2 separate regions of the Homo sapiens genome follow, and region 2 is linked to region 1. The links come from fine-mapping of genetic effects on gene expression. A gene starts in region 1. The other region holds a variant in brackets. All regions are shown on one strand. Distances are between the middles of the regions. Region 1 holds the start of SUCLG1 (succinate-CoA ligase GDP/ADP-forming subunit alpha). Region 2 has its middle 61 kb from the start of SUCLG1.

Region 1 (5,242 bases):
TTTATATACTAAATGTATTAAATGTTCACAACACTCTTATGAAATAGGGAGTTTCATACCCATCTCAGTAATAAAACCTGAAACCCAGAGGTCATGTAGCCAGTGGCAGAGTTGGAATTTGAACCCAGACCTGTCTGATTTCCAAACTCAATCTGCATACAAAGATGAGTGGTGTGGTATTGACTAGTGTGGTTGTCCCCTACCTATGAGCTACAGAATTGAGGTAGGGGTGTTCCCGGACCAAACTGAGGGTTGGGCTGCTATTTTTTGTGGCCCAATAATGAGATGTAGATGAACTGGGGAGGAAGAGAGTTTTTATTTCTGCAACCGATTACAGGGAGAAGGCCTGGAAATTATCATCAGACCAACTTAAAATTACAGTTTTCCAGAGCTTATATACCTTCTAAGCTATATGTTTACTTGTAAGTGTGCATTTATCTAAAGACATAAGTGATTAACTTCTTTTAATCTATAACTAAGGTCTGAGTACTGAAGACCATCCTCTGAAGCCTCAATAAATTTACTTAATCTACATGGGTTTAGGTGCTGGGGTGATTACCCTTATCTTATCCCCTGCTAAATCACAGAGGTTTGGAGAGTTCTTTCAGACCTCCAATAAACTTGTTTGTGGAGGCCTGGGGAGTTTCTTCGGACCTCCAATAAAACTTGTTTAATCCTAAATGGGTCCTGTTAAGAATTTCTTCATTAATTTGTCATGCTTCAAGGCCCAGGAAAGGCCTAGGCAAAACCCTTGGTGGGTTTCTGTTACATCTCAGCCTTTGTATAAGGGCACTGGCTTTTAATATTTAACTTAACCACTCAGTCAGCACTGAAACATTGTTATGGAGGCCTGCGTTAGTGAGACCTGGTCTGCCACAGGGGTGCAGTTATTACAAGAGGTTGAAATATCCTAAGTCCATCAAACATTGCCTGTGGATCCAAAAAATAATCTATATACTACTATTTCTCCTATATATATCAATTCAATTCAACGATGAGTTATTTGTGTAAGGCATTGTTCTAGGTGCTGGGGATACTCCAGGATACAAAACAAACAAAAATCCCCGTCTTCATGGAAATACAAATTTTCATTAAAAGTGTACTGAAATTATATTTTTTGTCATCATGCATTTTATCAATTAAATGAAACTAAACATATAACTTATCAAGCGACAGCTCAGGAATAATTTTGCTATTTAAAATAGCAAGGGATTTTCTATTTATTTGCCATAAAAATGTCCATTTTGTTATAATGGATATATCTGGAAACCACTGATACTATTTAACTCTGAGGAATTTAGTTATCACAAGAACATGATCCATGAGGGAGGAGTTTATTTGCAGTGAAGTCCAACCTGTTAATGACAATATTTGGATCATAAAGGAAGTATTGGGCAATCTCCTGGGGTAATCCCACTCATCCATCCCACAGCTCAGTGCCAATTATAATGACTACCTAAGTAAATTAGGATTGCAATTTTATTGACAATTCTGATGAGGAATCTCAGGAGCACGATTTTCGGCAGAGACGCAGATTACTTCATCTCTTGTTTACCTTTTGACTCTGGGACTCTCTGAGGTTCCTTCTAAAGCTGTTACAGAAGAGGGAACTGTTTGTCCAATCAGGGAGCAAAGTCACATTTGACCTCGAATTTCAGCCCTTAGGATCCTCAGGGAATAAACACTCATGCACTTAGTGCTAGTCAAAGACTGCATGATTATTTAACTAAAAAAATTCACATTCCAAGAAGTTAACTGTCAGTAAGATAGGTTTTGGTCTTTCTCATCACATCTTTCCCTTCACAGGCCACCAGTGCCAGTTCGAATTCCCGTCCCCAGCGGCAACCCTTCCGGGTCCAGGCACAGGTACGCGGTGAGAAATATTATTCTCTCTAATAGCAAACGAGGAAAACGAAGGGGGAAGGAGATGGGCCTGGGATACAAAGTTCTGGCACTGCTCTTCGCACCTCACCTCGCTGTTTCTTCCCTCCTAGTCTTCAAGTCCCTTGTCTCCCCGGTCTCACTGCCGCTCTTCCCTCGCTCCCTTCCCGCCGCCTCACTCAAAAGCTACGAACCAGTCGCGGCCGTCAGACTACATTGCCCACAATGCCACGCGCTGGCCAGTCTCGCGTGGGGTTTTCCCTCAGCTGCTGTTATAATTAATGTTAATCAAACCCACATTTCTAGGAAGGAGCCGAGTTATTATCTGCCTCTCCGATAGGATGCCTCTTTGTCTTCACCTGCCATTCCCGCTGTTTCGTGAAGAATCCTCTGTAAAGGGAAATTTGTTCAGGCGACTGCTGTGGCCACCCTCTGCCTCCTCCGGCCTCTGCCCCTGGGAGGTCCCCGGGGGCCTGGGAGTGTCATTGGCGTATGACCGCAACCCTTGCCGCTGCCGCTGACATCGCTACCATGGTCTCCGGCAGCAGCGGCCTCGCCGCCGCCCGTCTCCTGTCGCGCAGCTTCCTCCGTGAGTCCAGCCAGTACTGTCTTCCTGGCGCCCGCGGGTTATTGGCCCCGCCGGACCCAACCTCCTGGCCCAGGCCGCGGCTGGGCCCTCAGGGCTGGACCTCGGCGGGGGCCTGGGAGCCGCTTGGGATTCCGGCTTCGAGTCGGGGACCCCTACGGTGGAAGGAGCTTTGCTGGATACGTGGGGCGGGGGGCATGACTTAGGCCGCTGGCAGATGGAGATATTGGGTGGCTGAGCCAGGATTCGGGTCCGGGAGCCCTGCAAATTTGGGAGCTTGCTCTCGGCCCCGCGGTGACAAATGACAGGATGGGGGTGGCGTCTAGACTGGCCTTATTTGGAGTTGGGGATGAAGAGGTCCAAGGTGAACTTGGTGGGGAAGGTAAGGGTCTGGGTTGAGAGGTAGAGGAAGAGTGTCTCAGTAGGAAGTTGGGGGATGAGGCTGTCCCTAGTACGGAAAGGTCCTGCACTTCGAATTCCCCCTCTGCAGGATTGTATGTCAGGGAAAGATGGTTTCTGCACACGGAGTGGGGTCGGCATAGCCGCATAGACTACTAGAAGCTTATGGTTGGCTGGGACCTAAACCAGCTTATTTGCAGTGTCTCCACCAGGCGATTTGTGGACACATCCGTTCCCGAAAACTTAGTACCCAAGGTTGCTAGTCTTTGAGACACGCTGACTATGGAAAATTCTTGCCATATTCAAAGTCTCTGTGCTTGTCAGGTAGGTTATAGTAGAAAGAAACTTTGGAATCAGCCACATCAGGGTTTGAAGTCTGGCTAGTCCCTTTTCAGTCTGTGTAATAACCCTGGACACTTAATCTGTTTTTCAGTGTTTCCAATCACATGAAAATATTAACACATTTTAAGGGGCCTGAAGCACCATCACTTGTAAGGTGGACCATTATTTTGTTTACCACTAACAATGAAGAACGATTGCTTATTAAAACTGTGACACACCAGTGGTTGTCACATGTATCCTGGTTTTTTAAAAAGTGAAAAAAAATGTGCATTTTAGCAATGATGATGTACAGGATGATCTGGGTTCACTGCAGAATAAGTGGAGCAATTTATATAAAGCATCTCGTATGTAACAAACACTCAAAGTTAGTTTTCTTTTTCCGCTTTGCTCTTAATTCTGCTTGTACTGAATATTTTATGAGACTTAATTCCTTTCTTGAGAAGATTACATTCTGAAAGTGTACATTGATGAGTGTGCACTCAATAGCTAACACTTAGTTGCCAATCACTTGAGGACAAAGGTCTGGCTAGATAACGTTAGCAAGTATGAAATGGTTTGTTTGGTAAAGCTTTCTGGAGATTCTTGAGAGTGTTGTAGGCAGAAGGACAAAAAGAATTCATTATACCCAGTAATCACTCAGGTCAATAAAGTTTGAGCACCAAGAATGAAGTATATTGGATATGGTTTTAAACCAGCTTAATTTGAATAGATAGTGGGTTAGAATGTAGAAGATCAGATGTGCAGCACAGCCACTGTGGTGGGAAACCCTAGGAAGAAGTTGCCCACCTGTGTCTTTCGCTTCTGTGGTCTTGCTAGTCTGAGGTTCTGAAAGATCCTAGCCTCAGGTAGGTCTGCTGTCTAGAAAAATCTAGAGAATAAAGGAAGAGTGTCTAAAAGATCTAGTTCCTTACTCCACCCTTAGCAGTCCTCTCAATCCTCTTCCCACAGAACTGGAAGTGTGTTCTTCCTAGACTCCCAGGATCATTTGGCCCTAGAGTGACCATCTGGTTTAGTTTTGTTACTGGAGTGGGCTTGAATTATTCAAGTCATGTGATTAACTTGTTATTACGGGTCTGAGATTTAAACCAAGATGTATTCTATATTAAGAGGGGTTACAGACAACAATGCTTAATGTGTAAACACCTCTAAATTCACAAAACTCTAACTCCTCTTTCCCATGCCACATTTCCGAGCCCATTTTCACTCCCACTAGAAAAATAGCAGCTACAACATCACCTTGCAAACTTTTTTTTTAAAAAGGGACCAGAAATTATTTAGTCTGTGAAGCTAATAGAGCTACAGATGTTAGGGAATTTTGTTCCCTCTGTTAAGTTTCAACTTATGGTACATTACTTGCTGAAGGTCATAGTGTTGCAATATTGATTAGAGTTAACAGCCACAGAAAAAACTCAAGTGAACACTGGTAGATGCCTTCCGGAGCCCTGTTTTATAGCTTATGAAAAAAGGAAAAGTGGCCTGGCACGGTGGCTCATGCCTGTAATCCCAGCACTTTGGGAGGCTGAGGCGGGTAGATCACAAGGTCAGGAGTTCAAGACCAGCCTGGCCAAGATGGTGAAACCCCGTCTCTACTAAAAATACAAAAATTAGCCAGGTGTGGTGGCAGGCGCCTGTAATCCCAGCTACTCAGGAGGCTAAGGCAGGAGAATTGCTTGAACCCGGGAGGTGGAGCTTGCAGTGAGCTGAGATCGTGCCACTGTACTCCAGCCTGGGCAACAGAGTGAGACTCTGTCTCAGAAAAAGAGAAAAAAGGAAAAGGATCCAGTTGAAGTGGAGAGAGAAAATACAATGAAAAATGAGGAAGAGTTCTTCCATGAGAAAGTTTAAGGATTTCATAAGCACCCTTGAAGTTGAAATAGTGAAGTTTTAAGAGAAGCATAAAGTAATGCAAGGTCTTTTTAAAACTGGTCAGTAGTTTCTGTAACTTGAATCTTTTAGAATAAATAGGGAATAAAAGCCAGTATTTTTGAACCTCAGAATTTTGGTATTTTAATGCCAGAAAGTAAACCTTAAAAC
Region 2 (5,242 bases), 60 kb after region 1:
TGAGACTTTGCTGAAGTTGCTTCTGAGGCGATGGGGTTTTCTTTTTCTTTTTTTTTTTTTCTGAGACAGTCTCACTCTGTCACCCAGGCTGGATGGAGTGCGGTAGCATGATCTCCGCTCACTGCAAGCTCCGCCTCCCAGGTTCATGCCCTTCTGCCTCAGCCTCCCGAGCGGCTGGGACCATAGGCGCCCGCCACCACACCCGGCTAATTTTTTGTATTTTTAGTAGAGATGGGGTTTCACCGTGTTAGCCAGGATGGTCTTGATCTCTTGGCCTCGTGATCCGCCCGCCTCGGCCTCCCAAAGTGCTGGGATTACAGGCATGAGCCACCACGCCCTGCCTGACGATGGGGTTTTCTAAATATACAATCATGTCATCTGCAAACAGAGACAATTTGACTTCCTCTTTTCCTAATTGACTACCCTTTATTTCTTTCTCTTGCCTCATTGCCCTGGCCAGAACTTCCAATACTATGTTGAATAGCAGGGGTGAGAGAGGGCATCCTTGTCTTGTGCCAGTTTTCAAAGGGAATGCTTCCAGTTTTTGCCCATTCACTATGATATTGGCTGTGGGTTTGTTATAAATAGCTCTTATTATTTTGAGATATGTTCCATCAATACCTAGTTTATTGAGAGTTTTTAGCATGAAGAGGTATTGAATTTTATTGAAGGCCTTTTCTGCATCTATTGAGATAATTGTGGTTTTTGTCGTTGGTTCTGTTTATGTGATGGATTATGTTTATTGATTTGTGTATGTTGAACCAGCCTTGTATCCCTAGGATGAAACTGACTTGATCATGGTGGATAAGCTTTTTGATGTGCTGCTGGATTCAGTTTGTCAGTATTTTGTTGAGGATTTTTGCATCAATGTTCATCAGGGATGTTGGGCTGAAATTTTCTTTTTTTTGTTTGTCTCTGCCACGTTTTGGCATTAGGATGATGGTATCCTCATGAAATGAGTGAGGGAGGATTCCCTCTTTTTCTAAGTTTGGAATAGTTTCAGAAGTAATGGTGCCAACTCCTCTTTGTACCTCTGGTAGAATTTGGCTGTGAATCCATCTGGTCCTGGACTTTTTTTTGTTGGTAGGCTATTAATTACTGCCTCAATTTCAGAACTTGTTATTTGTCTATTCAGCAATTCAACTTCTTCTTGGTTTAGTCTTGGGAGGGTGTATGTGTCCAGGACTTTTCCATTTCTTCTAGATTTTCTAGTTTATTTGCATAGAAGTGTTTATAGTATTCTCTGATGGTAGTTTATATTTCTGTGGGATCGGTGATATTCCCTTTATTATTTTTTAATTGCATCAATTTGATTCTTCTCTGTTTTCTTCTTTATTAGTCTGGCTAGCAGTCTAAGTATTTTGTTGATCTTTTCAAAAAACCAGCTCCTGGATTCATTGATGTTTTGTGGGGTTTTTAGTGTCTGTATCTCCTTCAGTTCTGCTCTGATCTTAGTTATTTCTTGCCTTCTGCTGGCTTTTGAATTCATTAGCTCTTGCTTCTCTAGCTCTTTTAATTGTGATGTTAGGGTGTCAATTTTGGATCTTTCCTGCTTTCTCTTGTGGACATTTAGTGCTATAAATTTCCTTCTACACACTGCTTTAAATGTGTCCCAGAGATTCTGGTACGTTGTATCTTTGTTCTCATTGGTTTCAAAGAACATCTTTATTTCTTCCTTCATTTTGTTATTTACCCAGTAGTCATTCAGGAGCAGGTTTTTCAGTTTCCATGTAGTTGTGTGGTTTTGAGTGAGTTTCTTAATCTTGAGTTCTAATTCGATTGCACTGTGGTCTGAGAGACTGTTTGTTATGATTTCTGTTCTTTTGCATTTGCTAAGGAGTGTTTTACTTCCAATTATGTCGTCAATTTTAGAATAAGTATGATGTGGTGCTGAGAAGAATGTATATTCTGTTGATTTGGGGTGGAGAGTTCTGTAGATGTCTATGAGGTCCACTTAGTCCAGAGCTGAGTTCAAGTCCTGGATATCCTTGTTAACCTTCTGTCTCGTTGTCTGTCTAATATTGACAGTGGGGTGTTAAAGTCTCCCACTATTATTGTGTGGGAGTCTAAGTCTCTTTGTAGGTCTCTAAGAATTTGCTTTATGAATCTGGGTGTTCCTGTATCGTGTGTGTATATATTTAGGATAGTTAGCTATTCTTGTTGCATTGATCTTTTCACCATTATGTAATGGCCTTCTTTGTCTCTTTTGATCTTTATTGGTTTAATGTCTGTTTTATCAGTGACTAGGATTGCAACTCCTGCTTTCTTCTGCTTTCCATTTGCTTGGTAAATACTACACCATCCCTTTATTTTGAGCCTATGTGTGTCTTTGCATGTGAGATGGGTCTTCTGAATACAGCACACTGATGGGTCTTGACTCTTTATCCAGTTTGCCAGTCTGTGTCTTTTAATTGGGGCATTTAGCCAGTTTACA[T/C]TTAAGGTTAGTATTGTTATGTGTGAATTTGATCCTGCCATTATGATGTTAGCTGGTTACTTTGCCCATAAGTTGATGTGGTTTCTTCATAGTGTCGATGGTCATTACAATTTGGTTTGTTTTTGCAGTGGCTGGTGCCGGTTGTTTCTTTCCATGTTTAGGTGCTTCTTTCAGGAGCTCTTGTAAGGCAAGCCTAGTGGTGACAAAATCTCTCAGCATTTGCTTGTCTGAAAAGGATTTTATTTCTTTTTTGCCTATGAAGCTTAGTTTGGCTGGATATGAAATTCTGGGTTGAAAATTATTTTCCTTAAGTATGTTGAATATTGCCCCCACTCACTTCTGGCTTGTAGGGTTTCTGCTGAGATATCCAACATTAGTCTGATGGGCTTCCCTTTCTGGGTAACCCAACCTTTCTCTCTGGCTGCCCTTAACATTTGTTCTTTCATTTTTCCTTGGGCTGCACCAACTGTCCAACCAGTCCCAATGAGATGAACTGGGTACTTCAGTTGGAAATGCAGAAATCACCTGCCTTCTGTGTCAGTCTTGCTGGGAGCTGAAGACTGGTTATGTTCCTATTCAGCCATCTTCCCAGCAATCTAATATTCAAGTTCTGAAGAGAGATCTATGAATAGATGTCTATGCCTAAATTAGATTTTAGAATCTGTAAGTAGACGTTTTCCAAAGTCTGTGCCAATGACTTGTTGATGGTCATTTAAAAAAACTGAATGGAAAGGAAACGATTTTCTTTTGAAGATGAAAGGCATCTTTTTGTATCATAGGTGAAGTTAGAGATATGGATAGGACAAGAACAATTTCCAAATTCATTGCAGTGCTCAACTGTTATAGCATGGTTTCTGACTAATGCTTTCCCAGGTTGATTTATACTGATTATTGGCATCCCATAAATTTATTAATCTTAAAACATTTTTACTCTTCTCATTTCTAATTATCCTTTCCTTTCTTCATCATTCCTGTCTTGGTATTGTAGCATTTCATTTTAGAGAAATAGTGTATTTTATTTATTCCACATTGTTATGTTAATGTTTTTCTTTTAACGTTGCTGTCCTACACTTCTCCCTGTTCCTTGTGAGCTATGTTTATAGAAGCTTCAATGAGTCTGTATTCTTAATAAACTCTGTGATCTGCCTTCTTTTGTCTGAGTTTAGGCCCTCATCATCCTACACCACAATGATTGCAGTATCTTACCTTTCTTCACTCCACCCTCTTCTGTCTCCCAGAATACTCCCAACAGTACGTCATTTGCTTACCACTCTTCAATGGCTTCTCATTTTGTTTTAGATGAAGGTCTAATTGCCTTCCTGTGGCATGAAGCCCATCCTGCTGATGGGTGACTGCTTCTACTGCAGCTCCCTCAAATACACCCTGTTCTGGCTACACAACTTCACTGGCCATTCTGGAATCTGCCCTTCTGGTGAGGCCTCTCTGCATCTGCATGTGCCATTCCTCGGTAGAATGCTAAGTCCTCTACAGTGTACAGCTTGTACATTGAACAATTTCCCACTCACCTTTCCAACCTCAGTTCAGGGTCACCTTCTCCATGAAACTTTTCAGTGCCCTCTGAGTCCAGGCAGATTGGCTGTATCCTCCTGTTTGTTTGGTATATGCTTTCTTTTCTAGACTGTGAACTTCTTAAAGGCAAGGAGCGTGTCTCTATTTCTATTCCCAGAGTCCAGCGCAGTACTTGCCCCTATTCATATTTGTTGAATAAATGAGGAAAACAATAATATAGTATAACTATAAGAAAAAAGGATTTGTTTTGTACATAATAGATAACATGACTTATGATTCTTGTGTGCTTTTTTTCTGTTTTAATGAGAGTGACTTGCCTTCCCAGCTGTGCTGTGAGTTTTATATGGACAAGGACCATGTTTTATACTTGGTTGGTGCCCACTTGGTCCTTACTAGAGTGTTGAGTGTATAACAAAATTCCAGTAAATATTGTTTGATCAATGAAGGACTAAGTGCAGCATATATTCTGATTACTTATATTGAACTATATAATGTTTTCTTTTAAAATAAGGGTGTGACAAACTAGCAATAATAATGTACTAATTACATGAACAAGGTCATACACGTGGACATATGTAGAAAGGCTCAAATACCAAGGGCCATGTTCATTCCCCTTCAGTGGAGTCAATGCCACATGGCCACCAGGTGATGCTCATTAGTCCAATCTTTCTCCAGCAGCCAAGGACCCAGGAGAGTTGCACCTGCCAATTAGGAGGAAGTCTTGAAATTTCCTTCTGGTGTACTCACTAATTTTAATTTTTTTTCCTTCTTAAAAATAGAAAAGCTAAAAAAACCATGTGTCTTCACTCTCAGTCTATACACAATCTTATGAGTATCCTTTAGTTTTTCTTTTTCTTTCTAGGAGAGATTGTTCTTCTTTCCAATGATACAAAAATGACATAGGATGGAATCCTTTAACATCCAAAAGCTTATCAGTTTATTAGCCCAATGTCTCTCAATAGTTAAAAATAGTGCTTTAGGCCAGTGATTCCCAAAGCGTGGTTCCCAAGGCAGCAGCAATAGGGATTACCCAGAAACTTGTTAAAGATGTACATTCTTGGGCCTCACCCCAGACTCAGTGACTCAGAAACTCTAGGGCCGCAGTCATCTATGTTTTAACAAACTCTCCAGGGGATATTAATTCTGCTGCATGCCAACGTGTGAGAACCAGTGCTTTAGACCTTTAACAGTCATACAGCAGTGCTAGAGCAAGATACTACCAGGTCTCATAGCTGCCAGGAAGGAGGTGGAGAAGAGTCATTAGGAGACAAGCTTTGA

Evidence for each region.
Region 2: its variant is fine-mapped to the expression of SUCLG1 in whole blood (TOPMed, PIP 0.97).

Annotation. Positions count from the first base shown.
Region 1 is chr2:84,456,401-84,461,642 of GRCh38, reverse strand. SUCLG1 (succinate-CoA ligase GDP/ADP-forming subunit alpha) reads left to right here and starts at 2,363. Exons shown (of 9, transcript NM_003849.4): 1 at 2,363-2,470. The coding sequence starts at 2,374. It also overlaps a transcript of DNAH6 not described here. RefSeq lists a silencer at 1,817-2,006 and an enhancer at 2,187-2,326.
Region 2 is chr2:84,395,931-84,401,172 of GRCh38, reverse strand. No RefSeq gene overlaps it. Among named protein-coding and RNA genes, the nearest start is that of SUCLG1, 61 kb to the left of the region's middle. The variant T/C (reference allele first, on the strand shown) is at 2,435.